4 linked regions of the Homo sapiens genome follow. The protein of the gene in region 3 interacts with the protein of the main gene of each other region in a pairwise test. Each region holds a gene or a part of one and is shown on either strand. Other genes may lie near its edges. The genes, in order: STK38, OR5H1, MOB2 and MIIP.

Region 1 (8,177 bases), on a different chromosome or scaffold from region 3:
GCAAGACTCTGTCTCAAAAAAAAAAAAAAAAAAAAAAAGAAGAAGAAGAAAATTCAAAATGTGTAATTAGGGAAATTGTGTTTTATGTAGTTTTCCTTCTCTTTTATGTTTTCCAATGTTCTTAAAGAAAACAGATAATTTTATGAAGAAAATTTACAACCAAAAGAAAAATTTCACTGCAAGTTCCTGCATGTCCTCCCCTCTTCTCCCAAAATAAGTAGGTTTTCTTCTCCCTGAACCTTTCTTCATGTTTTTCCTAATTGAGTACCACAACCCTTCCTTGCCAAACAGAAAGCTCTTTCAGAGGTGGTACTATACTTTTCCCTCTTTCAAGAAGCCAATAGGAATTCTGAACACTGAGGGATCAATCTATCACCTGTGCCTCTGAATACTATTCACATTTCCCCGGGGTACCAGGTTTTTTGTTTTTTTTTTTTTTTGAGATGGAGTCTTGCTCTGTCACCCAGGCTGGAGTGCAATGGTGCAATCTCGGCTCACTGCAACCTCTGCCTCCTGGGTTCAAGCAATTCTCCTGCCTCAGCCTCCTGAGTAGCTGGGATTACAGGCACGTGCCACCACACCCGGCTAATTTTTCTATTTTTAGTAGAGACAAGGTTTCACCATGTTGTCAGGCTGGTCTCGAACTCCTGACCTTGTGATCCGCCCGCCTTGGCCTCCCAAAGTGCTGAGATTACAGGAGTGAGCCACCGTGCCTGGCCCCGGGGTACCAGGTTTTAATAATATACTGCTCCTTTTATACTTGCAATTATTGCGTCAGTAGGTCATCCAGTTTGGGCATTTTTCATTAACAGGAATGACCTTGCATGGGCTCTTTCAAGCTCTCCCCAACAGATTGCTCTTGTGCCCAAGCAGGATCATTTCCAAGAATTGCGGGGACAAAGTCGCAAATGCTTTCAACTCTCCACCACTACCTATATAACTCCTTTCTGTAAATCCTCCCTCCTAGGGTCATCTTTTTAGAGCTGTATCAATCTGGTGGGGAGAAATAAAGGGTGGAGATACACTATTAGTTTCCTTCTCGAGAGGCAGTGCAGTACTGGGAAAAGCAAGCTCTTTGAGTTCAGGAAGTAGAGCCCAACTTTTGGTCCCAGTACTCAATGGCTGTGTGATAACAAGAGACATTATATATACCTTTAGAGTCTTAATTTCACCATCTATAAAATGGGTTACTGTCCTGATTATGGGAAAAAAGCAGCCTGTAAATAATAAATGTTGATTTCCTTCTACCTTTCAACTCTCCCCCTAAGTCAATATTTAAACACCAACACCATCTCTGGCAAAACAGAGAACAGAGATCTGGGACTGCGGAGAGAAGAAAAAGAGAAAGCAGACAGACAAAGCAATTAGGATGTGGGGCTGGCATGCCTGACTCATTTAATTCCATATATTTGTTATATCAACAATCATGACTTAATGGTATGTTAGAAGCTTTGAAGTTTTGCAATATTTTTCTACTTGACAAGTAGCTGTGATTTTTACCTCACCAAATGCTCCTCTGCCTATTACTTTTAAGGACTCAAAATCTTCCAATCCAAGTCTTGTTCTCTTCAAACGAAGAAACTCTGTTTCCTTCCGAGCATGTGCTGATCTCCGGAGTCGTTTCTAATATTTAAATAAAAAAGGGAGGAGACGGGAAGGAACTGAAATTCTGAAACTCTGTAACAAGTCATGTTTGTGACTTACCCAGCTAGAAAACAGGTCCAAGTGGACTAAGGATAATCTTTTCACATATGAAATCACCCCAGAAGGATCCTTAAGAGGTCACTTCTCCCTTTCCTGGCATTTAGACACAACATCCAAGCCACACTGAACAGATGGGTGCCTCCTCTGGGAACTCTGACTAACCTACTTCAGCAATCCACTATCCTAACATTTTTGGTGAAGGGAGGGATAAATAATCAACAATATTTTCCTTTATCCTGTTTAATATAAATTAAAAATGTGTTCTTATCTTTCCCTCTGGCTTAAACACTGTATACTCTAACTTTCTGTTATTTCTACAAGTATTGGGTATTTTTCACCACCGTCCTGGGTTCTGCAAGCCAGTCCTATTTTTGAAGGCATTTCCACTACCATTTCAGTTCCTTGCACAGTCCCTTGTTAACTATATTTTCTCCTACTGTATCTGTGGGCACTGGGTGGAAGGGCTGATTTGAGATGGATATTTTGCCTTAATAAAGATTTCAGGAACATGACACACCGGGGCCTGTCGGGGCATGGGGGGAAAGGGAGGGAGAGCATTAGGACAAATACCTCATGCATGCGGAGCTTAAAACCTAGATGACAGGTTGATAGGTGCAGCAAACCACTATGGCACATATATACCTATGTAATAAACCTGCATGTTCAGCACACGTATGTATCCCAGAAAAAGTAAAATAAATAAATATTTCAAAAATTTGCCCTACTCCTACGGAGACTTTTCAGTGAATTCTATAAAAATGCTACAACTTGCTCTTTTAAAATTTAATTTGATTTCATCCCTGCTTTCTCTTGGAATTCTAAATCTAGTTTACTATAACTGCATCTAGAGAAGCCTTCCTCTCCTAGGTACTTAATAATTAATCTGTCCCTCTGAATTAACACCCAAATCCGGAAGCACACTACCCCTCAAGTTCCTCTGTTATTGAGCCAAAACCCTTCTCATGTGTACCAAGGCTAACAACTCACTGGACAAGATACAACCTGCCACGCTGGGTTTTAAGGAAAACATTGCCAATATTAATTACCTCCTCATCTTTTAGGCCTTCTTCTTCCATCACCTTTTCTAACTTCTTTTGTCTAAAACAAACAAAAACAAAAGACATGAAATCACATCTGAATGATAACTTTCTGAAAATTCTGTAACTTAATACTGTAGTAGATTTTTAAAAATGACACAAACAGGTAAATCTCAAAATGTCTCATTAAAACAAAAAAAATTAAGTTACTAAGACAAGTAAAAAGATTTCCATCCTTTGTTAGGCCTACTTTTTTTTGGCGGGGGGAGGGGGGCAGGTTGCGAGGAGAGGAGACAGAGTTTTGTTCTGTCACCCAGGCTAGAATGCAGTGGCGCAATCTCAGCTCACTGAAATCTCCACCTCACAGGCTCAAGCAATCCCACCTCAGCCTCCCAAGTAGCTAGGACTACAGGCGCGTGCCACCATACCTGGCTAATTTTTAAATTTTTTGTAGAAATGAGGTCTCATTATATTGCCCAGGCTGGTCTCAAACTCCAGCCTGACCTTCCAAAGTGTTGCGATTACAGGTGTGAGCCACCATGCCCCGCCCTTAGGTCTACATTTTTTAAAAGACTGTCTAAGATGTTAATGCAACAAAGACTCTTGTTTCAAAAAAATGTCCTCTCTTGGTTTTGGGTGTTTTTTTTTTTTTTTTTTTCCAGTTATTTCCTCCTTACCAAACCACAAAACAGCTGGTATTTGATAAACTCTTATATCATGCTGTTTCTTTCCCTCTCTCTGACTGAAGTCTACTTCCTTTATTTCTGCATCTTCCTCCTCTTCCCTGCCATGAGGAAAGGGTAACAAACAACAAAGTTAAAAGCAGAATTTGGAAATTTAAGGGGAAAAAGTGATCAAAAAGGTGACTGGCACCACTATCAAAACTCCATATATCAGGCTGGGTGTGGTAGCTCACGCCTGTGATCCCAGCACTTTGGGAGGTGAGGCAGATGGGTCACTTGAGGTCAGGAGTCCAAGACCAGCCTGGCCAACATGGTGAAACCCCATCTCTACTAAAAATATAAAAATTAGGCCAGGTGCAGTGGCTCACGCCTGTAACCCCAACACTTTGGGAGGCCGAGGCGGGTGGATCACTTGATGTCAGGAGTTCGAGACCAGACTGGCCAACATGGTGAAACCTGGTCTGTACTAAAAATGCAAAAATTAGCCAGGCATGGTGGCATACCCTGTAATCCCAGCTACTTGGGAAGCTGAGACAGGAGAATCACTTGAACCCAGGAGGTGGAGGCTGCAGTGAGCAGAGATCACACCACTCACTGCACTCCAGCCTGGGTGACAGAGTGAGACCCTGTCTCAAAAAAAACAAAAAGGCCGGGCGTGGTGGCTCACGCCTGTAATCCCAGCACTTTGGGAGGCTGAGGAGGGTGGATCATAAATTCAGGAGTTCGAAACCAGCCTGGCCAACATAGTAAAACCCTGTCTCTACTAAAAATACAAAAATCAGCTAGGCGTGGTGGCGAGCGCCTGTAGTCCCAGCTACTCAGGAGGCTGAAGCAGAAGAATTGCCTGAACCTGGGAGGCAGAGGTTGCAGTGAGTCAAGATCACGCCACTGCATGCCAGCCTGGGTGACAGAGCAAGACTCCGTCTCAAAAAAAAAAAAAAAAATATATGTATATATATATATATTTATATGTATATACACATGTATACATATGTATATATGTACACATGTATACATATATACATATACACATATGTATATACGTATATATACACACATATATATACACACACATATATGTAATATATGTATATATATTAGTACACACACACACACACACATATATGTATATAAAAATTAGCTGGGCATAGTGACAGGTGCCTGTAATCCCAGTTACTTGGGAGGGGCTGAGGCACAAGAATCACTTGAACCTGGGAGGCAGAGGTTGCAGTGAGGCGAGAGCACACCAGTGCACTCCAGCTCAGATGTCGGAGTGAGACTCTGCCTCAAAGAAAAAAAAAACCTTCAGACATCAAACTTTTGGAATACTGAACTTTAGAAAGTACATGCAGTAATGTTTTTGATCTATAGTCTCATAAAACTAAAAGAAGCAAGTAAAACTTCCTTACAACCAATTCCACAGAACCTTCATTTATTCAGCACAATAAATGAAAGCACATGGGCTAGAATCTCTCCTCCACCACTCATCAGCATTCCAGATAAACAGGCAATGTGTACAAACAGAGCAAAGAAGGATAAGACTACAGTATGCTGGCCAGGTGCGGTGGCTCACGCCTGTAATCCCAGCACTTTGAGAGGCTGAGGCAGGCAGATCACGAGGTCAGGAGATCGAGACCATCCTGGCTAACACAGAGAAACCCCATCTCTACTAAAAATACAAAAAAAAAAAAAAAATTAGCCAGGTGTAGTGGCCGGCGCCTGTAGTCCCAGCTACTCGGGAGGCTGAGGCAGGAGAATGTTGTGAACCCAGGAGGCGGAGCTTGCAGTGAGCCGAGATCGCACCACTGCACTCTAGCCTCGGTAACAGAGCGAGACTCCATCTCAAAAAAAAAAAAAGAGTGTACAGTATGCTGCAGAAATAGCATGTAGTCCATTGTGGCTGACGCACACAGCACTACAAATGCCACACCAAGAAGGTTGGATCTCATTCTGTAGACAACTGAGTGCTAAAAGAGGCTTGTGTGCAAAGGAGTGATGTGATAAGATTTCTATTTTAGAATGGTAACCAGCAGTAATGAGGATCTGATGGACTGGCAGGGAAAGCAACTGAGAAAGAGGCTAGTTGAGAGTTATTGTAATGATTCAGATGTACAGTAAAGATCTGGAACTAGGGCAGGAAAACTAGAATGAAGTGAATAGAGCTATTGCAAATATGACCAACTGGCAATAGGAGTCAAGAGAAAAACCTTAGAATTTCCTGTCTAGAGGGATATGATGCCACTAATCAAGACAGGAAACAGAGAGAGGAACACGAACAGTTCTCCCAGTTCCCAGAATATTTTGGGATACATGTGCATCTATGCGTGCACATGTATTAGAGAGAAAAGGCTGTACTCTTAGTAGTTTCGGGAGTGTAAATTAATTCCATTGCAAGTGGTTAGGTAGTTGAAGCAGAGAAGAACAAGAAAAGTCAAAGCATAACATGCTAGGCAAAAGCTCTAAGAACACAGCTGTGGTCAGCTCTTTTTGTGCCTTGAGTACTAAACACCATCATACGTCCTGACTACACGTTTTTGAATGACTACATCAGAATGGGCTACCAGTCCAATGCACTATCCACTGTGTCACAAAAGTGGCTCCTTCTAATTATATTTTAAACCTAAATACAAACTAAGAGGTTTTCCACAGGTTTACTGAAGTGTAATTAAATTGGTTGCAGAATACCTGCCTGAGAGTGAAGTTAACTCCTTGAACACAATCAGATTATTTCATTAGAGAAAGTATCCAGAAAAAAAAAGCCTATCCATGATAACAATTAGGACCAGGTCCACAAAGACCTTGAGGACACCAAAAACAGCAAGGACAGCCTGAAATGAGACTTAAAAATGACATCCTCTGTGAGATGACATCAAAGGAATTACTGTTAACTTGGTTAGATTCATGGTGGCATTTGCATTATGCAAGAAAATGGCCATATTTTTGGAAATGCATACTTGACAGTATGTAGGATTAAAATGACAGATGTTTGGAATTTACCTTAAAACACAATAGCAAGAAAAAACAAAATGGGATAGATGAAGAAAATGTACCAAAGCCCTAAAATTATTAAATCTGAGGGATGAATATATTGAAACGGGGTCACTATATTATTCCACCTATGTTTAAAATTGTTCATAATGAAAAAGAATAGCAGGACTCTCCACACAGGCATGTTCTCTGGTAGCAGTGCCAGGTTAACTAACACTCCAGCCCTTGGTGGAGCCACTCTTCCCTTCAATTCCAATGTTCAAAACCAGAACCCTAGGAGAGAGACGAAGCCACTTTCACACTTAGAGGCCATATCCAGCCTCACCCCAGTGATGCCTTCCATGTGTTCCATTTAGTTGCGTGTGTGTTCATTTCTTATATGAGAGAGTGGTAAGTCCTTCTGAAGGCAGGGACTATATCTGAATTCCCTATGTCCACTAAGAATAGTGCTTTGTACACAGCTACTTTCTAAATGTATGCTGCTAAATTTTAAAAAGTCAGAATGTATAGCAATGTGCAGACACATTCATGACTACTACTTACAATTAGCCCCCTTTTCTAATCTAATTTAGGGTCCCCTCTTGGCATAGCCTGATTTGGAGGTAGCAGGGATGAGAGAATAGGGCTATTCCACCCTAATTGAAAACAGACAGTATTTTGGTGAGACACTGAAAACCAGGAAAAATAGTGTATTTAACAGAAATAGGGCCAGGCATGGTGGCTCACACCCGTAATCCCAGCACTTTGGGAGGCTGAGGCTCGCACACCGCCTGAGGCCAGGAGTTGGACACCAGCCTGGCCAACATGGTGAAACCCCATCTCTACTAAAAATACAAAAATTAGCCGGGCGTGGTGGCACGTGCCTGTAATCCCAGCTACTCAGGAGGCTGAGGCAGGAAAATCTCTGGAACCTGGGAGGCAGAGGTTGCAGTGAGCTGAGATCGTGCCACTGCACTCCAGCCTGGGTGACAGAGCGAGATTCTGTCAGAAAGAAAAGAGAAGAGAAGAGGAGCGACAGATCGAGATTCTGTCAGGAAGAGAAGAGGGGAGCGGAGGGGGAGGGGAAAGGGCTGTGATTACATCTCCATGATTAAAATTCAGAAAATGTCTAATAAATACTTTTTTTTTTGAGACAAGAGTCTTACTCTGTCACCCAGGCTGAAGTGCAGTGGTACTATCTCGGCTCACTGCAACCTCTGCCTCCCGGGTACAAGTGATTCTTCTGCCTCAGCCTCCCGGATAGCTGGGATTACAGGTGCCCACCACCACGCCCAGCTAATTTTTGTATTTTTAGGAGAGATGGGGTTTCACCATGTTGGCCAGTCTGGTCTCGAACTCCTGACCTCAAGTGATCCACCCACCTTGGCCTCTCAAAAAGTACAGGGATTACAGGCGTGAGCCACCACACCCGGCCTTTTTCCTTTTTTTCTTTTCTTTTCTTTTTTTTTTTTTTTGGAGACAAGAGTCTAGCTCTGTTACCCAGGCTGGAGTGCATGGCACAATCTCGGCTCACTGCAACCTCTGCTTCCCGGGTTCAGGTGATTCTTGTGCCTCAACCTCCCGAGTAGCTGGGATTACCGGCATATGCCACCATGTGTGGCTAATTTTTGTACTTTTAGTAGACACGGGGTTTCATCATGTTGCACAGGCTGGTCTTGAGCCCCTGACCTCAAGTGATCCACCCACCTCGGCCTCCCAAAGTGCTGGGATTACATGTGTGAGCCCCTGTACCCAGCCAGAAATACCCTAAAATTAACACTACACA
Region 2 (8,608 bases), on a different chromosome or scaffold from region 3:
TTGGGACTTACCTCTGTTCACTCAAAAACAAATCTGCCTCAGTTATGGTATATGATGGATATCGCAGGTAATTCAGTAGTATTAGTATCAAAACCATCATACTCAAGTCCTTATATGATAAACTAGGCTATTTTAGCAATTAATGCATTTATAAATGCACATTGAATAACATATACAACTGTTAAATAGTTTTATTTGATTTCTACAGTCATTATTCTATTATGAACAGTATGAAAATTTCTTGAATGCTTTTGAATAACATATAGACATATTGCGATTAGTTTATTAGGTACTAAAACATTAGCTCACTAAAGTGCTAGAACAGTTGTACTTGCAAAAATGTTTGAACACTGGAAACAACATAGGTACCTCTAACTTGCATAATTTTGTGACTATTTTTGTAATTAGAGAAAGGATATTAGTATGAAACCTTAACATGTTTTTTTAACATTTTTGTGAATGAAACTGTGACTTGCTTATTTCTCAGACTGTAGATGATAGGATTTAACAAAGGAATGATGACAGTGTAGAATAGAGGCTCCACCATATCTTGATCATCTGCTTGCGGAGATGCAGGGCCCACATAAATGAAGAGAAGGGGTCCATAGTATAAAGAGACAGAGAAGAGATGGGCTCCACAGGTGGAAAAGGCTTTCCTTACACCTTTATCAGATTTCTTTTTTAAGATTGCGAAGAGAACAAATGTATAAGATACAAGAATAGTCACAATGCTGAATACCTGAATTGAACCTGAGAAAATAAAAACCATTAGAAAATTAATAGAAGAATCAGTACAAGAAATCTTAGACAATGGGATAGTGTCACAGTAAATGTGATGTACTATGTTGGAGTTACAGAAGGTTAGTCTGAATAAAAATCCTTCATGGATTAAAGCATGAAGAATACCACCTACATATGACAAGATTAATAGCCGGATGCACAGTCCATTGGTCATAATGGCTGGATAAAGTAAAGGTTTGCATATGGCTACATAGCGATCATATGCCATCGTTGCCAAGAGAAAACATTCCGTGGTTACACTGATTGCAAACGAAAAAAACTGTATCTTGCATTCAGAGAGAGATATCATCTTACTCTTAGCTAAGAAGTTATTCAGCATCTTTGGGGTCACTGTGGATGATATCCAAGCATCCACAAAAGCTAAATTCCCAAGGAGTAAGTACATTGGGATATGAAGGTGAGGGTCTTTCCAGATGACAGCAATCAGACCAAGATTCCCCATGATGGTGATGAGATATATTACCAAGAATGCCAGGAACAGGGGTATTTTCCACTGTGGTTGATATAAAAATCCTGTGAGAACAAACTCTGTCAGCAATGTTGCATTTTCCTCTTCCATGTCCTCACAGCATGCCCTCTAAAATAAAATGCAACAAATGAAAGGGAACATTTGCAATGGCATTATCAGTTGAAATTGGGGAAGAGGTGCTGAAGGAAAACCTAAAATGATCAGAACCCTCTCAATTTTTTGATCAGTCCTATAGCTGATGAATCTCTATTTGTTGCAATAAAGACATGAAAAAATGATATATTTTGGTTTGAAACTGTGCAGTAATTAGCAGATTTAGGTAAAACAAGAGGCATTCTCTGTATGCACAACATTTATATGGACACTATTGAGTGCAGTAGAAAAATTGTTTGACTGGCATATGATACAATGTCAACAGGAAAGATTTTTGTACGGTCTGAATTAAAAATAAATAAAATAAATGCCATGTGAAGTATCTTAAACTTTATTCTTCATACAATAAGCATGTGCCAAAAATTTTAAGATGGGAAATTACATCCTAATTTTTTTTAATTTAGTTTTTGATAGTGTAGAAAATATGCTGCAAGAAGAAGAAACTGTACTCAGGGATATTAATTAGAAACTTGTTAGTAAGGCCCAGGCAATCCCAAATCACATTACACATAAAAATTATCTGAGTGAGTTTTTATGAAAAATATGTTATGAGGTTTTAATGTAGAAGTTATTTAAGGAATTAGGTCTGGGGATCTGCATTTTGAAAATACCCTCCGGGGGATTCAAATGCATGTTAAATGTATGGTCTTGGTGTGATATGACATTGAAAGAGACAGTAAGACAAAGAAATAGATTCTAAAGAATTCAGAATGTAGAGTCTCTAGTATTCTGTGACATATTTTGTAGGCAGTAAGTGGTCAGTGAAGGAGAGAGGAGTCCCTTGGTGACTGGGAAGATGGATATTAAACATTGAGAACTCAGGTGTGCTGACAAGTTTTTGGAGTGAGCATCATCTGGACAACTAGATGTGTTCCAATCAGTAATATGAGCCTATTAGAGCTCAATAGAAATGATTGCTTGGATTCATTGTGGTAGTCAAAGGCAGTCAAAGGCATAGTTAAAGATGATGCATCCTTGGAGTGTAAAACAGAACCAAAAGGAATGGCAAGAAAATCAACTTGAGCAAGTTATATTAAGGAGGTAACAAGGTGGACATATGTCCTGTAAATGGCCAAGGTGTGATCTCCTTTTTTGCCATCGAAATCATAGTGGCTGTCAGAGGTAACATACTGCCAAAAGAACTAGAAACTCATTTTCCCATTTTTCTTACATCTAAAGTGAAGGGACATGATCTAGGATGGCCAATTAAATACACTGATCCTACATTTGGAATATGGAGAGAGGGACAAAAGATATTGGTTTCAAGGCAGCCAAAGCCAAAATACCAGGACTTTACTTAATGCAACCTTTATTCACATCAACAAAATTTACAGTGTGAGCTCTCAAATTATTGTCAAACATGAGTGTAAGGATACAGGAGTTAATATGTAAGTGACTCACCTTAAAAGTTTTAATTGGAGAATGTGGTTGATTCAGAGGAATGGGTATTTATATCAGAATAATTCCAAGAAATAATTCTAAGAATCATTATTATCTGAATCTTTAAACCAAGTTTTAGTTGTTTAATGCCCTAATTTATATAAACTCATCATAATAAGATTAACAAAATAGCAAAATATTAAAGGAAAAATTCAGTCTTATAACTCTTTATCCATATTAGAGTCATAAAACTAAAATATAAAAATAGTCCAGTCAGAGTCATCCAGTTTCTGACTTTCTATTATGACAACTTGTTACCCAATCTAAAATTTTAATGAATTAAATGGCATTATCAACATTTCTATAAATTATAATAAAAATTAGAGAAGTTATTTCTTCCTTACCCATATATTGAAGGAAATTGTGGATATCCTTTAAACACGTTGTGCTTTCTAAACAAAAATACATACAGTAGCACAGCAATGTCAATAATACAGGTAGCCATTCATGGCATATTCATTCTTTTTGAAGGTTTCTTTTTCCAAGCATAGAAAAATGTTGTTTATTAAATATGCTTTGAGCACATAAATGACCCAGTTGTGCCACTAGGGTCTTTTGCCAGAAGAGAAAGGAATGAAAAACTGAAATTCTCATAACAGTGTCAGAGGACTCCCTGTAGGACAAATTGAAGCTGTTCTAATGGGCATTGTGCATTTGCACAAGTGTAAGTTCAGGTTGTCCCCAAGGGCATTACAAACTTCTGGAATCACAAACATCATTTCATGGTAGACACTTCTAGTTTTAACAATTGAAATAACACTTTATGTTACTATTTACCACCATGGATGACACTTCTGGCATATTTGTTCAAACTTTAGTTTATATGTAAAATTTACTGTTAGTGCTTTAATTAGTATAGTCTTATTTGAAGTAACCAAAACATAATTTTAATAAAGCCAAAGTTCTAGATCCTCTTTGGGAGCAACCTCAAATACAATTGTCCTTCCCATGCAAATTTCAGACATGCAAATTTTAGACATATATTTAGATCCCCCATTATAAGCTAAAATCCAATGGGAAATTTTACTAGGAAGAAGACAAAAAGCAAATGTAAAACAAAGCCAGGGAGTGGCTTGCAGTGGGAGGTGTCCTAGGTCTGTGCTTCTCAAACTATAATGCCTATGATTTTCCTAGTGATGTTGTCAAAACGCAGATTCTGTTTCAGTAATTCTGGGGTGGGTCTCTCAAGAGCCTTTATTTTTAACAAAGCAGTGCCTGTGGACATTTGCATCCAACAGGTCTTCATGGTGGGAAGACCTAGATTATCAGAAAGCCTTGATCATTGAAGAAACAACAAATAATAAATGTGGCTGGTATGCAAAGAGAGAATCAGGAAGGACCAAGTGTGTTCAGGGAGGCCAGCATGGGTGGGACCTTGTCGGGTAGTTCAAAGATATGTTCTTTACCCCAACTTACAGGAAAACCAATGAACTATTATTGAACGATTTTGAAAATGGTGATAGCATGTTCAGAATTTTCTTTAGAGCATTAACAGAATAACATGTTAAGGAGCATCCATTCAAAAAAGAAAACCTAATTTACCTACTTGTAATATTTATATTTCATATTTAAATAGTGACATGTACCTTTCTTGACAGCAAAAGTATTTATTAAAGAAATAAAATTGCCTGCACTTGGATTATGGATGGTGATATGGTTTGGATTTGCTGCTCTACCCAAATTTCATGTTGAATTCCAATCCCCAATGTTGGAGAGGGTCCAGGTGAGTGGTGATTGGATCATAGGGGTGGACTTCCCCTTTCGGTTCTCATGATAGTGAGTTCTCACAAGATCTGGTTGTTTAAAAGTGTGTAACACCTCCTCCCTTCTCTCTCTTCCTCCTTCTCTGGACATGTACAACATACATGCTTCCCCTTCAGCTTCCCCCATGATTGTAAGTTTCCTGAGGCCCCCTCAACCATGCTTCCTGTACAGACTGTGCAACTGTGAGTCCATTAAACCTCTTTTCATTATAAATTACCCAGTCTCTGATATTTCTTTATAGTAATGCAAGAACAGACTAACGGACTAACGCAAAGGTAAATTATTAATGTCCCTACTTCTGCTACACTGCCTTATCTCTGCAAGCCTTCAGCAATAGCTTCATAGGGAGTTTCTTATAATCGATTGACAGTGGAAGAGAAGACTCAGACCTGGATACAAATGGTTGTGCACCATATTCAGGCGGGTGGCTGCAGCACTACTGCTCCTTTCTGGGACATTTTGGAAGGACCATGGTGAAGGGAAATCCTCCCAGTTAGAAAAATTTTAACTGATGTACTTGGTTGTCCAATTTGCTTAAAAGGAGAAATAAATAAATGTGTGATTATGTATCAATTTATAGGCTATGACTAATGGTTAGGCTGGATGATCAGGGACTTGGAAGGAGCATAATTAGAATACTGGTGAAAAGGATATTTGAGAGAAGGTGCTTGGAGAGATGTCTCTAACTGGGTATAAATTATGTAGATATCTGCTATGGTTTGAATGTTTCCCCTCCAAAATTCAGGTGTTGAAACAATGGCCCGTGTGACAGTATTAAGAGGTGGGGCTTTTAGTAGGTGCTTAGGTCATAAGGGCTTCTTTCCTTGTTGATGGGCTAAAGCCCTTATAAAAAAGGTTTCACACAGCCTTCAGTTTCCTTGCTCTTCTGTCTTTCACCACATGAGAACCCAGTGTTCCTCTCCTCCAGAAGAGCTTTCAAGGCACCATCTTAGAAGTAGGGATGGGACCCCTACGAGACATCAAGGCACCATCTTAGAAGCAGGGACGGGACCCCTATGAGACATCCAAACCTGTCAGCATCTGGATCTTGAAAATACCAGCTCCTAGAGCTATAATAAAATAAATTTTCATCATTTATAAATATTTAGTCTCTGGCATTCTGTTATAGCAGCACAAATAGGTCAAGACAGAAATAGGTACCAAGAAGTGGAGTGTCCCTATAACAAATACCTAAAGTGTGGAAGTGTCTTGGAAAGAGGTAATGAGTGGAGGCTACAGCAGTTTTGAAGTGAATGATGGAAAAAGCCTGTATTTTTCAGGAATGAAGCATTAAGGACAAGTCTGGTTAGGATTCAGAAGAGAAGAGCGTTAGGGAAAGCCTCGTTCTTCTTAGAGATTACTAGAGTGGTCATGAACAGAATGTAGGTAGAAATACAGATGATAAAAAATATTCTGATGATGTCTTAGAAGGAAATGAGGACTCTGTTATTGGAAATTAGAGGAAACACTCTCCTTGATATAAAGTGGCAAAGTACTTGGCTGAATTGTGTCTGTGTCTTAGGACTTTGTGGAAGGCAAATCTTAAGTGCAATGAATTATAATATTTGGCAGAAAAATATTATAAAAATATTTGCTTATAAAAATATAAGCAGCAAAGTGTTGAGGGTTGCTGCATGGCTTCTCTTAATGGCTTATAGTAAATGTAAGGAGAGAGGAGCTATTGAAAGATGAGGTTTGTAATCAAAAACGAAGGAGAATGTAAAGATTTGGAAAATTTTCAGCCTGGCCAGGTAAAGAATAATAAAGTACGTTTCAAAAAGAAAGTCAATGGTGTGGCCAAGTAACCATTTGATCACGATATTAATATAAAAAGAAGAAAACCAAGTGCTATTCATCAAGACAATGGGAAAATGACTCCAAAGGTATTTCAGATATCTTCAAGCCTGCCATGTGTATTACAGTCCCAGAGTGCCAGGACCTTGAGGGGAACTTGGGACTCACTGCCCAGGGCCACCTCAAGTCTGTGCTCTCTGCATTATGACACAGAACTCCTTTGCCAGCTGAGTTGTGTCTCAGGTTGGGCCCACCTGCAGCTCAAGCTACTGCCCCAGAGTGCAGAATTGGTAAGCCTTGGTGACATCCATGTGATGCTAATTCACAAGCCTGCAGAACGGACACATGGATTTCTCCACCTAGGTTTTGGAGGATGCCTTAGATAATCTCAACACCCAAGCAGAGACCTGTCACAGGGTCAGAGCCACCACAGAGACTCCCAAGTGGGGCAATTTTCAGTAGATCTGTGGAAACAGAGTTGCCAGAAGACCTCAGACCTGTATAGCTACTAGCTACAGTGGCATCCTGGAGAACTACAGGCACTGGACTGCAATCCATCGGAGCTGCAGTGTAGGATGCACTCAACAAAGACAGAGAAGCAAGGAACCAGGAGCCTTATTGATGCAACCCTAACACGGTGTATTTGGAAAGTGGGACATGGCATCAAGGGTATACTGAAGCCTTAAGATTTAATGTTGTTTGCACTGTTGGATTTTGGACTTACTTGAGACCTGTTATTCCTTCTTTTCTCTCTTTTGGAATTTAAATATTTGTTCTGTGCTTGGCCCATCATGTATTTTGAAAGCATGTAACTTGTTTGATTTCACAAGTTTATAGCTAGAAAGTAATTTACCTCAGAATGAAACATACCTTTAGTTCTTACTCATACCTGATTTAGTTGATATCTTGATGAGACTTTAGACTTTTGAGTTAATGTTAAAATGAGCTAAAACTTTTTGGGCTATTGAGATAGAATTTAATGTGTTCTGCATATGAAAAGGACATGAATTTTGGGAGGCCGTGAGCAGTATGCTAATGTTTGTTTTACCTCCAAAATTAAGGTATTGAAACTTAACAACCGATGTGATGGTACCTTTTAAATTACCTCCTAAATGTTGTAAATTTAAGAGGCAATTAGGTCATCAGGGATGCTTCCATTTTCAATGGTATTAAGGACCTTGTAAAAGAGTCTTCAGTTTGCTCGCCCTTCCACCTTCGACCACATAAGGATGCAGTGTTTCTCCACCTCCAGAGGATGCAACAAGAAGGATCTATTTCGGAAGCAGATCGCAGTCCTCACCAGAAAATCCATTCTGATGACATCTTGACATCTTGGTCTTTGACCTCCTACCCTCCAGAACTCTGAAAAAGTACATTTTTGTTTCCTGTAAATTACTGTCTTTGTGGTATTCTGCTATAGCAGCACAAGTGGACTAAAGACAGTGTTTGTAGCTCATGTGGATGTTCACCAGTGTATCCTCTTGATTATTAAAATTCTCCTGAGGATTTTAATAATCAAGAGGATAGAATGACCCATTCTATGATACCAGTTAGTCTCAAGTGGCTCTAGTGATAGGGATGGAGGTTTGCTTGGGCTTAGCTATATGGATTTCCAATTACCAAAGCCAACCTGTCTAGGGCCACTGTGAGGTGCTCAATCAACCAGAAAAAGAAGCCAACACTGAGTCCTCAATCTGTAATCATTAAACTAGATGTCAAGTTGATTACATTGGACAGTTTCTATCATGAAAGAAGCAGTGTTTTTTTCCTAATAGAATAGATACTCAATCTGGATACAGAAATGTCTTCTCTATGCACAATGCTTCTGTCAAAGCTACCATCCGTGGACCTACCAAATTTCTTCTTGACTGTCATGGTACTCCACACAACATACCTCATGATTAAGGAGCTCACTTCACAGCAAATGAATTGGAGCAATGGGACCAAGTTCATGGAAATCACTGGTCTTACGATGTTACTATGTTCCCCACCATCCAGAAACAGCCAGTAGAATAGAATAGTGAAATGACTTTTTGAGGACTCATTTACAGCACCAATTAGGTGGTAAAAATTTGCAGGGCTGAGCAATGTTCTGCAGAATGCCATATATTATCTGGATTCACATTCAATATACGTTGCTACTTCTCTTGTGAGCTGGATTTACAGGTCCAGAAATGGAAATGGTGG
Region 3 (8,177 bases):
ATTGCATCTTCTCTCTTATCTTTGTACCTACTAAAGGCTTACCAATTTATTACCTTTCAAAGTCATCACATTTTGATTTCACTCATTTCCCCTATTGTTTTAAAAATCAATCTCAGTGCTTTCTGTTCTTATTTACTTTCTTGTCCTTGATTTTGACTTATTTTGCTCTTTTTCTAGTTTAAGTTGGAAACGTAGATTACTGAAAGTCATCTTCTTTTTCTAAGAAAGCATTAATCCTATAAATCCCCTCTAGGCACTGCTTGAGTTATGTCTCACAAATTCTGACATGCTGTATTTTCCTGTGTACAGTTTGTTAAAGTTTTTTTGTTGAGGCATCCTCTCGGACCCATGGACTACTCAGAATTGTATTAGTCTGCAAGTGTTTGGAGACTTTCCTGTTCTCTGTTACTGATTTCTAATTTAACCCCACCATGGTCAGAAAACTTACTTCGTATGGTTTTGATTTTTTAAAATTTGTTAAGGGCTCTTTTGTGACAGGTATGCTCCATCTTGGTGGCTAATCTTTGTGAAGTTGAAAAGATGGGTGTTCTGCTGTTGAGGCTGCAGTGCATGTGTCATTTCAATCCAACCCACGGGTGGGGTCATCGGGCTCCGTGCTCTCGCTGACTGTCTATGAGGCTCCATCACTGAGGAGAGGGCTGCAATCCCCGGCGATCATGTGATTTCTACACAGGCCGTCCGTTTGCTTTGTGTGGAAAGCCCTGTTGTCTGGCGCACACACATTTATGGCAGGATTTCTTCAAGAGCTGCTCCTTTTCTAATTAGATAACCTTCTTATTCCTGGTCACTTCCTTCCTCGGAGTCTCCTTTGGCACTGACATAGCCACTTCCGCTTCCTTCTGATGGGTGTTTTCTCAGCACATCTTGTCCTCTTACTTCTCACCCGCCTGCACCACAGCACCTAGAGTGGTGTGACACACAGGGTGCTTATGCCCCACATTCCTATGTTGAAAGCTTAACCCCAGACGCAAGGGTATCTGGAGATGGGGCCTTTGGGAGGCGATGAGGTTGCAAGGGTAGAACGCTCATGAACAGAACTGGTGGCTCCGTCGCCCTGCCTTCCTTCCAGCAAGAAGGTGCTGTCTGTGGACCAGGAAAGGGACCCTCACCAGACACTGAATCTGGCTAATCAGATCCAGTGACGTGGTCAGTGCCCCCTTCCTGGTCCACAGTGGATCTTCACCTTGGACTTTCAGCTTCCAGAACCGCAAGAAATAAGATTCTGTTGTTCACAAGCCACCTAGCCTATCATGTTTCGTGACAGCATCCCGAATGAAATACAACAAATGAGCTTCTTGTAAACACCAGAGAGTTGGTTATTTTAAAAATACATTCTCATAAGCTGCCCAGTCCCGTCTGTTCATCTGTTAGCATTTAGGTTTTCCACTATTTGCTGTTTGTTGCCTCTGTTTCTCATTCCTTATGGTATTTCTTCTTTCCTGCTTTCTCTTGGGCCACTGAAATGTTTTTGTATTTCATTTAAATTTACCTATTCTGATTCTGACTGCGTCTCTTCACATAAGCTCTGCAAGGCCTGCTCAAAGGGCTGTAACACGCAACTCAACCCCACATGCTCTCCATGGCACCCACACATGTGCTTCCACTGGAGCATAGCAGCTCTCTTGCCCACAGCCCCACCGCCGCCAGGCCCCACAGCCGCCACAGCCCCACCGCCACCACAGGCCCCACGGCCGCCCTGGAAATGGCACTGCACAGGCCCCACGGCCGCCCTGGGAACGGCACTGCACAGGCACTGCCGGACACTACTCTTGTCTTCTTGCACCATCACTGGCGTCTCCACAAACACTCAGTGGGAGGAGGCCCTCCTGTTGGGAGAACTCTGCAGGGAGCCTCTGGAACAGGTCTGCTGGCTGTGAGGGCTCTTGGTTTTGAGTGACTTTGGACACTGACTGGATGTGGAATTCTGGGATGACCTTTCTTTTCTCCCAGCACTGGAAGATGTGTGGGGCTTCCTTCTTCCTTCTGGCCTCCTGGGTTTCTAAAAGTGCCACGGTCATTCACTGCGGCATCTGTTGTCAGTACCAGGCCACCGCCGTCTGACTGCTGACAGAGGATGGCTGCCAAGGGCTTTTTCTTTGCCCCCAGTTCTCAGCATTTGGTTGCATGCATCTGCACGTGTCTGTGAGCCTTATTTGGGGTTTGCTTAGCTTCTTAAGTCTGCAGGTTTGTGTCTTTGTGGGAAGTTCTCAGCCATTATTGCTGCAATGTGTTTCCGGCCCCGCCCCCTTTCTCGTCTCCCTAGGAGTCAGACATCAGCCTTTTTGGGACTGTCCTACAGGCCCTAGCAGGGAGGAGACGCGCCTCAATCCCAGAGCCCTCACACGACCCAGGCAGACTTGCTGGTCTTTTGGGTGGCAAGTGGCCCTGAGGCCCTCTGAGAAGTCTCCATGTTTCTCTTAGTTTGAGTGGATTTCTGTCCCTTGGTTTGAAAGGATTCCTGGAAAGGCATTACATGCAATTAATTCACACACATCTACTACCACCATGATGCCAGCTCCAGATGAGAAGGACCAAGAGGCAAATCTGGGTGGCCTAGGCCCTCCAAGGGGACATAGGTCTGCCCAACACCACATCCTACACTCCTCCAAGGACCCCTTTTCCAAACCAACCCAGTACCACAGAACATGCAGGAGCAGAGCCTCTGGGAAGGGTGCCAGGCCCCGTCTGCCCAGGAGCAGAGGCGCTGAGCCAGCACTTGGCCACAGGTGGCTCCAGAGCCACAGTGGACACAAGGCTCTCGAGTAGCTCTCGGGTGCTGCCCTGCCACCTCAGGACCCATCTCCATGCCTGATCCATGGAGGCCACCGCCGTCTCACATTGAGCTTGCTCCCCTCAAAGCCATAAGCACTGTCCCCATCTTCCTGGGCCATGCCTGGCTGTGACACCTCATTTTCCTGGGGAATTAAGACAGTGAAGCCAGCTGTTGTCTGTACCTGCCCCGGTGTCACCCATAACCAAACCAAGCTGTGACCCATCATGGCCATGAGGGCAGGGCCCAGCAGGACTGAAGCCAAGGGGACGCCTGCCAGCTGCCTGTGCAGAAGCTCCCCTTGGCTTCTTGAAGGCAGAACTCAGCTTTGTCTGGGGACCACGTCTCCCTGTGCCAGGGCCAGGAAAGCCATGTCTGTGGGCAGGATGACTTTCAGGACGCACTCACAGGCACACATTCTGTCCCTGACCTGTGTGCACTGACAACAACGGGACATCAGGGAAAAGCTTCCGCCCTCCTCAGCCGCACATGTCCCAGGCTAAGCCCAGCAGACCCAGCCTCCTCCTGCCTGCAGCCTCCAAGGCTGCTTTCAGCAACCCAGGCCTGGCGGCGCTCCTTCCCATGCTACGCAAGTGAGGTGCTCAGGGCCACTAACGGACACCCATTTACTGAGGAAATCAGGGTGCAGTGCTTCCAGGAGAGAGCTACCAGCACCAGGCATGTTGGATGGTCACGGAGAAGGTAACTGAGCCCCCATGAAATGAATGGCCGAGCAAGGACCTGTGGCCTGCCCAGCCCAGCCCTCACTGTCCCATCCAGAGCTGTCACGGGAGCCAGCGGAGAAGGGCTCTCTGCAATCTTAGGGCATTCCTTCTGGAAACGTCTCTGTCCCTAGAAACATAGCCCATCAACCCCCACCAGCTCCTGCACCTTCTGGGCCCCACTGGGGACCTGGGTAGCTGGGCCACTGGCCCAGCCTGTGGCCTTTCCACAGGAAGGTGGATGTTGTGGAAGGCCTGTGCCAAGACTTCTCAGGGTCTCCAGGTGAGAACGGAATCTGAGAGGACAGGAGCCTGGGGCAGCGGGGGCTCAGAGCCCCACCGAGTCTCCCAAGAGAAAGTGGGCTGTAGCCAGGCAGCACTCACGTGTTGCACACGGCCATCGTCTGACACGTCTCTCCTGTGCAGAACTCGGAGATGGTGCTATACTGCAGGTTGATGTGGTGGAAAAACGTCGTGGCTGGAAGAGAAGAGAAGGAGCCAGATGTGAAAAACGCCAGAGCTGAGCCGCCCCGTCCACCCCTGCTTCCAGCAACAGGTGCAGGAGCTCGGCTGGGTGAGCTCTGCCCGTCCACGGGCCACATTCTCCCCTCGCGGCAGGGGGCTGCTGAGCACCAGCCGTGGGGGTCCCCCTTGAGGAGGGGCTTCGAGGAGGAGCAGGGAGGAGGGAGGGGGCCCGCCCCCAGGCCCCCGCGCACTGTTGCTGGCCAGCCACTCGTTAAGGTCAATCTCGCGGGGCAGCACCACCAGCTCCTTGAACTGGAAGTCGGTGATCCTGGCCTTGGTGTGCTCAGGCTCCAGGTAGGCCTTCCTCTCCTCCGCAGCGGGCTTCTTGCCATTAGGCTTGGCTTTGGACTTCCTGCCAAGAGAGGAGACGCGGTGTGGTCACTACACGCCCATCAGACCCAGGGTCTGCCCGGGGGGTCAGTTGTGGCCAGCGCAGGTGTAGAGGGAGCTGCCCGAGCCCATCGGGGCGACACTGCCTCCCTGCCAGGCTCAAAGGACACCAACGGGACACCAACGGTGAGGCTGCTCCGCAGAGGGGCCAGTGGAGCTGCCTTGCGTGGCACCTCCTGGGAAGAAGGGCTGGCGCTCCCACTTGCCACACGGGCCCCTGCACGGAGGGCATCCTCACCCCTCACCAAGTCCTCCAACCAGGGAGGGGCCCAGGGTTTAGGGCCCCCAGCGCCCACCTTCCAGTTTTCCAGTGCTCTTGGAAGGAAAGGAGAAGCAAACCCTCTCACTCCTGGCTTCTTTTGAGTTGGCCAGCCTGTCCCTGCCCCTGCCGCTGGTGGCCCCGGTGAAAACATACCACAGGCCTTGTGCAGGGCACCTGCCTTCCTGGCCAGCCTGAGAGCACGGGGCCCCTGGCATCAGGCGGCAGCCTGGCCTGCAGCTCCAGTATCCCTGTTGTCCACCAGGCCTGGGGAGGCCACAGGGTGATGAGGATGGGGGCCAAAGGTCTTTGTGGCAACCTGACCCTGTCCTTATTTTTTTTCTTTCTTGTTTTGAAAAGTTGCTAATGGTTTATTTAAGAGAAAGAGAAAGGAAAAATGCTCCCTGAATGCCAGGGAAATGTTTCCCTTTCAGCTTCTCACAGCAGATCTTCGCCTTAAAAGGAGACCAGCGCAGGCCTCTGGGGGCAGTGCTGGGAGTAGCCAGAGCCAGGCAGGGAGCAGGGGCAGGAGCAGGGGCAGGGGCAGGGGCAGGGGCAGGGAGGGGCAGGGGCAGGGGCAGGGAGGGGCAGGGGCAGGGCCCCTGGGCCCTGGCACTCCCACTCTGCCATCTCTCCAGAGCACAGGGCGTGGGGTCTGAGGAAGAGGAAGCACAGGTGTGGATGGGCCACATGCAGCGTGGGCACTTGGGGTCCTCACAGTACAGGGGTGGGACAGACAGGGTGAGCTTCCGTGTAGCCTGCAGCCCCTCGCCCCAGCACAGCGAGGCACCCAGACTCCACACCAGCCTGTGCCAGGCCATGCCCAGCGTGTCCACCACAGGGAAGGCTCTCCCCATGACGCTGGGCCTGGCCCTGACCACCGGCAGGTGGGCCTGCACCTCCCTGCCCTGTGCTCTCACAGCACAGCACACCACACCCCACCCGGGCAGCTACAGCCTGGGCTCGGCCTTCCCATTTGGAGGGGTGGGTTGCAGTGGCCCAGGCTGCCAAGCGGGCTACAAGCCGTCTCCCTGCTCTGTGTCTTAGGAGCTGTGTCAACTGGCAAGCTCCAGGTGGCAGTTACCTGGTGGTCGGTCACGCAGGGCTGCCAGCAGGAGCAGCTGTCAGCGCGCTCACTCTCAGGGTGTGCCCCAGGGCCCACTCAGGGAGGCTGCCCTACTGGCAGTTCCTGCCCCCTTGCCAGCCTTCCAGGCTGGGGCTACCTTCCACCTCCGGTCCTCAGAGAGGGCTGGGCAGGGGCAGAACCTGGAGACCTGGCTTCCCTCTCCCAGGCTCTGGCTGTGGTCAGGAGGTAGTGAGCAGCCGCCACTCCGGCACTGGCACCTCAGCCTCCCTGCCTCTTCCCGTCCACACCTGCTCTCCTAGAACACAGAAGAAAAGTACGCACGAGGCCCTCCAGGCTGGGCCTCCCCGAGCTGCTCCCCCAGTCTCACCCTGTCCCCAGCACCCAGGGCTGGCCGGGCCCCGGAGCTTAGTGCACTGTGAGACAAGCCTCCTGCAAGCCTACCTTCTTTGGACCGGGTCACTCATTCCCATGGGGCAGGTGGACGGGCACTGGCCCAAAGGTAGTAGGACCAAGGGGACGCGCAGGACATGGCCTCTGCTCCAGGAACGGCTGTGCGGGCACCAACAGAGGGACTTCCATGGGAAAGCCCCGAACGCCTGGCAGCACCCACGTCTCCCTGACCTCAAGTGCCCTCCTTCCCAGAAGGGCAGGCTCTCAGCGAAGGCCCAGGCCTGGGCAGGAAGCAGTCACTCTGAGGCAGCCCATTGCTCGGTCCAAGCCAGCGGCAGCTACCGAGGAGGCCTCAGAGCACACGACACCTCCATGGCACTCTTCTCGTCCTTAGTCATTCTTGGCTTTGCCCAGTGGAGAAAACACCTCTGCGGCGCCCCCCGCAGGCTCACAGGCTCTGAAACAGGCTCTGTGCCGTCCAGGCCCAGAGGTCTGCCCAGTCACTGCCTCAGTGGCCCAGCTGCCCCTCACCCAGGGAAGTGCCGAGGCCCTGCGCCCTGCTCCCAGCTCCCCCTGTGCTGCTGGCTAGGAGCCCCGGGGCACAGAAAGACCAAGTCCTTCGATGTGGAGGGAGGACTGTGGGAGCAGGCCCCGGCCGCAGGCAGGACAGAGATGGCGCTGAAGGGACTGGGGAGTGGACCCTGGACCTCAGCCCACCCACAGGGCTTCCGTGACCACTTGGAAGAAGCAGAAGGGCAGATGCTGTGTGCACAGCCCCCAAAACAAAGTCCCTCACACTATTCCAACAGGTGGGCTCTGAGCCTGGGTCCTGCCTGGCAGGCACCATGCACTTAGGAGGGCCGGGCCAGATGGAACCACCTCCTTCCTGCCTCCCACACACTCACCAGCCTCACCTCCCTCCTCCCTGCTCTAGATGACCTGTCCTGCCTGCCACAGGGGTCTGCACCCTGTTTGTGGGCACCAGCTGCTGCTCTGCCAACTTGCCCATCTTACACCAGGCCTAGCAAACTTCTCCTGGTCCTTTAAGAGCCTGTCAAATGCCACCCTCCCCATTCTCGCCAGTGGTACCCATGACGTGCCAGTCGGCCTCCTTGGCACCCAGCACGTAACTGATCCCTACTGGGAAGTGAGGCAATCCCTGCTAGACACAAATTTGGTGGGCAAGGGAAGGGGCACAGGGAGGCATCAGAGCTGCTGGGCTCCCGTGGAAAACTTAGACAACCACACAGTCAACACACAGGGGGTCTCACCCTGCCCACAGCAGGTGCACACTGCTTCACAGGCAGGGGGAGCTGGGGAGTGGGCTGGGAGCCGCCCACTCCTCATCCGCCCTGAGGGACGAGGACAGCACAACCGAGTGCCCTGCACCTTTGCCACGAGTGTCAACTTCATTATCACAGGGATGGAATCCTGGCCAGGCCCCACGGCCCACAGGAATGGGGTGCTCCAGGCTCAGAGACCCCCACTCGCCCAGAGCACGCTTGCTATGGAAGTCGAGCCTGTAGACCCTGAGGTGAGTGGGCAGCAGCAGGAGGTGGCCCTCATCTGGCACTTCCCACCACAGGTCAACGCCAAGGGGTGGGGCAGGCACGAGGGGCCCAGAAATACAAGTCCCCAAGCCCAGGCCTGGAAAATACGGTGACCAGGCAGCGTGTGGGGTGCAGGAGAAAGGCCCGCAGGTGACGCCTCTGAGGAGGGCATGGTCCTTGGACCCCACTCAGCCATCTGCACCGGGCCCCTCATGCTCCTTGGTTCGGGTGAATGTCAGTGCTGGTTGGTCCACCCAGAGCCTGAAAGTCAAGGCTCCCAGTGACCCCTTCCCCCAAGACCCGGCCAGGCAGAGCCCCCAGTAGCCACCCGGTACAGAGCCTGGGTCTCAGCACACCTTGCTGCCCAGGGTGCACGCCACGGGCACCTCCTGTCACCCCAACATGCAGGGAGGGCACCACATGCTGGGGTGCTTGGCGCCACCCCCACCCCTACATTTCTGAT
Region 4 (4,225 bases), on a different chromosome or scaffold from region 3:
CAAGCTGCAGGAGTTTCGGGAAACCAACAAGGAGGAGTGTATCTGCAGCCATCCTGAGTGAGCAGGGGCGGGCGAGGGTGGGCGAGGGCGGCTGAGCGGCTCCATCCCCCGGCCTGCTCATCCCCCTCGCCCTCTCAGACCCCAGTTGCCAGGCCTGCGTGAGAGCAGTGGCAGCGGCGTGGAGGAAGACCATGAATGTGAGTGCGGGCCCTCGGCTAGGCCGCTGAGTAGTCCAGCCTCGCGCTGCCCTGGCCTCCCCTGCCCCAGAGCAGTCCCATTTGAGGTTTGGGGCCTGGGGAGGCCCCTGAGATGTTGAGACTCATGGAGGGAGGCCTGCAGTCTGGACAGGGTGGCCAAGCCCTGGTAGGGGTGGAGTGAGCTAAGGCCTGGCCACCGAATTAGGGGCTGCCCTGTGTGGCACCATCCCACCCTCCCCAGCAGTGCCCCTGTGCTGGTGGGACTCCATCCCAGCTCCTGAGGGCCCCAGGAGGATGTCCCTCCCCACCCCTTAGGGCGTGGGCCCCAGGTTCTGGGAGGAAAGGGGTTAGGAGGAAATGGGCCGAAGGGCTTCCCAGAGGGATTGGCAGCTTGTGTGGTTGGGGGCCGCTGAGGGCAGCACGGAGCCTGGGGACCTGGGTTCCTGGCTCAGGGAGAGCTGTGGCTTCTCATGGGCCTCGCAGGCGTGTACTGTTACCGTGTCAACCGGCGCCTGTTCCCGGTGCCTGTGGATCCCGGTACCCCCTGCCGCCTGTGCAGGACACCGCGAGACCAGCAGGGCCCTGGGACCCTGGCGCAGCCAGCGCACGTCAGGTGAGTGACCAGAGTATTGGGACACCTTGGGGGACAGAGCCTGAACCACTGGTTTTAAGAAAAGATGGGCCTGGGCGTGGGCCCCCAACCGCTGGGAGGCTCCTCAGGGGTCCCCCACTGCCCCCCTGCGCAGGGTGAGCATCCCGCTGTCGATCCTGGAGCCCCCGCACCGGTACCACATCCACCGGCGAAAGAGCTTTGACGCCTCTGACACACTGGCCCTGCCCCGGGTGAGCAGCCACGTGGGGCTGGATGGTGATGAGGGCGGGGCTGGCTCAGACTGGCCCAGATCCCCAGGGAGGGTCACAGAGCGAGACTGGGCTCGACAAGGGTGAGCGCCCAAGTCTCTGGAGCACAGCCTGGGCCTCTTCCATCACCCACACCTGTACCTAAGGGAGGTAGGACCCCCGCTCCACGTACCCCGGTGCTTCCAGGGTGATCTGCCTGCAGGCTGGCATGACATGAATGGGTCCTGTTTATTGCGCTTTTGTGTACTGCAGGCACAGTCCTTAGGGGGCTTATCTCATGGAGCCCCCACAGCAGCCAGGAGTGTAGGCACTGCTGTACCCCCACCCTGCAGGTGGGGAGACCGAAGCAGAGGGGGAGGCGCCTTGGTGGAGGAGCTGGGATTCGAACCTAGGTCTCTGTGCTGCTGCTGCTGCTTTTTTTTTTTTTTTTTTTTTTTGAGACCGAGTTTTGTTCTTACTGCCCAGGCTGGAGTGCATTGGCATGGTCTCAGCTCACTGCAGCCTCCACTGTAGTCCCAGCTACTTGGGAGGCTGAGGTGGGAGGATCGCTTGAACCTGGGAGGCAGAGGCTGCAGTGAGCTGAGATCTCGCCACTGCACTGCAGCCTGGGTGACAGAGTGAGACTCCATCTCAAAAAAAAAAAAAATGTCCTTTCCTGTGTCTCCAGGTCGGGATGGGGTGCCAGTGGCAACTCCCCCTGACTCCTAAATTGAGAGTAGGGCAGCTGGGGTCAGAGGAGGAGAAGGATGCAGAGGAAAGTCAGTTTGCTGGTCCGTAAAATGGACATAACAGCGCCATCCTCAGGGATGTTGGTGGTGAGGTGGGGCTGTTGAGTGAAGCAATCCATGCAGGTGCTTGGAGAGCCTACAGCAGGAAGTACCCTGTGAATGTCACTGTCACCGTCCTATCCTCCTCCCATTTCAGCTCTCAGGGCCCCAGGGATGGCTGGATCTGCCAGGATAAGAAAGGGGAGAGCTGGGGTAGTCTTGTGGGTAGACACAGGCCCTGCCTTGGTGGGGGCCTCCTTCCTAATGGGGGGCACAGTTCCTCCCTGATGGGGGTGTGCCCAGTCAGCGGGGAGCTTGTCCCAGGTCAGGCACTTTTAACTCCTTGCCTTCCACAGCACTGCCTGCTGGGCTGGGACATTTTTCCTCCGAAGTCTGAGAAAAGCTCAGCCCCCAGGAACCTGGACCTCTGGTCCTCTGTCTCCGCTGAGGCCCAGCACCAGAAGCTGTCCGGCACCAGCAGCCCTTTTCACCCGGTACGGTCCAGATCGCATCCTAGCCTGGGGTGCCCCCTAGAGGGACAGAGACCTCGCAGCAGGCCTGGGGACTGCAGAGCCTCCTGGGGGGTAGGATTGAGGTGGGGAGGATGGAGCCTGGGAGTGTCTCTCTGCAGGGTCCAGCCCTCCAGCCCTGACCCTAGCCATCCCTCGGAACTCCTCTGCTCCCTGCCGCCTGCCCTGCTCCACCCAGGAAGGCCACCCTGACTGCAAGATCCAGGAGGGAATGTGGCTGGAACTGGGGATGACCTGTCCCTTTCAAGTGGCCCCCCTGAGACTTCCCTATTCCCCATCCAGGCCTCACCAATGCAGATGCTGCCCCCGACCCCGACCTGGTCAGTGCCCCAGGTCCCTCGGCCCCACGTCCCACGGCAGAAGCCCTGAGGACTGACTCCTGGGGGAGAACAGCATTCCCGCCGCCTCCAGCCTCTCCCCTCTGGCAGGCGCACCCAGGAGATGGAATCCCCTGCCCGCCCAGCTCAGGCCCAGCTGTCCTAGGTTGGGCAGGTGGGTGGACCCAAGCTTGTCTGCTGCCTGAGTTCCAGAGAGGGAGGACCCTGGGGTGGAGGGTGAGGGATTCTGTGGAAGTTTGTAAATAAAGCTCAGTGCTCTGCAGCTCAAGTCCCACGTGTGCTGGTTCCATCCTGCTAATGCACTTGAGGCCCAGAAGGCACTCTGGCCTCTCAGCCTGCCCTCCTGGCACCTGTGGAAGGAAGATACTGCAACCACTGGGACTAGGCAGTGTGTGTCCGTCACCATGAGGGTGGCTCCTTCCGCAGATCCCCAGCTCTGGGTAGTGGCCTCCACCAGATGGGGGAGGGGGGGCCCCTGGGCAGGCTGGGCCAAGGTTATTAAAAAGTCATTTTAGCGAGGGCCTCCGCTGAAGCCGTGAGTCGTGTTGAGTGACTGAGCTCTCTCCTTCCTGGTCCCAGAACCGGGATCCATTGATAGAAGGGCTCTCTGGAAGTCCCTGGGGTCACATGGCTCCTCCACCCAGCCATGGGAGCCGCAGGTCATTCAGAGCCCCAGCAGGGACAGATGAGGAAACAGGGCTGGGCGGTGAGTTGGAGGCAAGGTTAGCAGAGAGCCCAGATGTCCAGTCTGGGAGAGTAGGCAGTGCCCTGTCCTTCACTCACCTCTTGTATGTGTTGGTTGCATAATATGAAATTCTTGTTTTTGTAAGTGGAATAAATGCGGAAACGAGGCATGAACTTTCTCTAAGGTTTCTCGGCTTAGAGATGGAACTGGGCTATGCTGTCCTGGGGCTTTTTCCTGGAGTTTATGAAGCTATAAAAACCTTTCCCTCTCTCTGGAGAAACAAAGTCTGTTTGAGTCCCTGCTTTCCATTATTTTGGGTATACAGAAGTGGAATTGCAGGATCAGAAGGTGATTCTATGTTTTTTTATTTTTGAGACAGGATCTCACTTTGTCACTCAGGCTGGAGTGCAGTGGGGCCATCTCCGCCCACTGCAGCCTCGACCTCTTAAGCTCAAGTGATTGATTCTCTTGCCTTAGCCCCCTAGGTAGCTGGGACTATAGGCGCGTGCTACCACTCCTGGCTAATTTTTTTGTACTTTTTGTGGAGAAGGGGTTTCACTATGTTACTGAGGCTGGTCTTGAACTCCTGAGATCAAGGGATCTGCCACCTTAGCCTCCCAAAGTGCTGGGATTACAGGCGTGAGCTACCACCTCCGGCCAATAATTCTATTTTTAATTTTTCAAGGAAATGCTATACTGTTTTACTTTCCGACCAGTGATGCACAAGAGTTCCAATTTTTCCTCATCGTCAACAGCACTTGCTATTTTCTGGTTTTTCGGTAGTAGCCATCCTAATGGCTGTGAAGTGTATCTCATTGTGGTTTTTATTAGCATTTCCCTAAGGATT

What was found.
Region 1: the proteins of MOB2 (region 3) and STK38 interact in binary tests that used the Homo sapiens proteins (3 or more experiments, as listed by UniProt).
Region 2: the proteins of MOB2 (region 3) and OR5H1 interact in binary tests that used the Homo sapiens proteins (3 or more experiments, as listed by UniProt).
Region 4: the proteins of MOB2 (region 3) and MIIP interact in binary tests that used the Homo sapiens proteins (3 or more experiments, as listed by UniProt).

Annotation. Positions count from the first base shown.
Region 1 is NC_000006.12:36,522,841-36,531,017, forward strand, and holds part of STK38 (serine/threonine-protein kinase 38), read right to left. Parts: intron 2,803-8,177; coding exon 2,751-2,802; intron 1,624-2,750; coding exon 1,501-1,623; intron 1-1,500. UniProt on the Homo sapiens protein: Serine/threonine-protein kinase that acts as a negative regulator of MAP3K1/2 signaling. Converts MAP3K2 from its phosphorylated form to its non-phosphorylated form and inhibits autophosphorylation of MAP3K2.
Region 2 is NC_000003.12:98,125,450-98,134,057, reverse strand, and holds the start of OR5H1 (olfactory receptor 5H1), read right to left. Parts: upstream 3,338-8,608; 5' UTR 3,208-3,337; intron 1,379-3,207; 5' UTR 1,361-1,378; coding exon 419-1,360; 3' UTR 1-418. UniProt on the Homo sapiens protein: Odorant receptor.
Region 3 is NC_000011.10:1,476,496-1,484,672, forward strand, and holds part of MOB2 (MOB kinase activator 2), read right to left. Parts: intron 4,392-8,177; coding exon of another isoform or gene 4,391-4,391; coding exon 4,230-4,390; intron 3,992-4,229; coding exon 3,898-3,991; intron 1-3,897. UniProt on the Homo sapiens protein: Stimulates the autophosphorylation and kinase activity of STK38 and STK38L.
Region 4 is NC_000001.11:12,029,085-12,033,309, forward strand, and holds the end of MIIP (migration and invasion-inhibitory protein), read left to right. Parts: coding exon 1-57; intron 58-73; exon of another isoform or gene 74-138; coding exon 139-197; intron 198-680; coding exon 681-810; intron 811-943; coding exon 944-1,040; intron 1,041-2,181; coding exon 2,182-2,319; intron 2,320-2,456; coding exon of another isoform or gene 2,457-2,477; exon of another isoform or gene 2,478-2,637; coding exon 2,638-2,724; 3' UTR 2,725-2,961; downstream 2,962-4,225.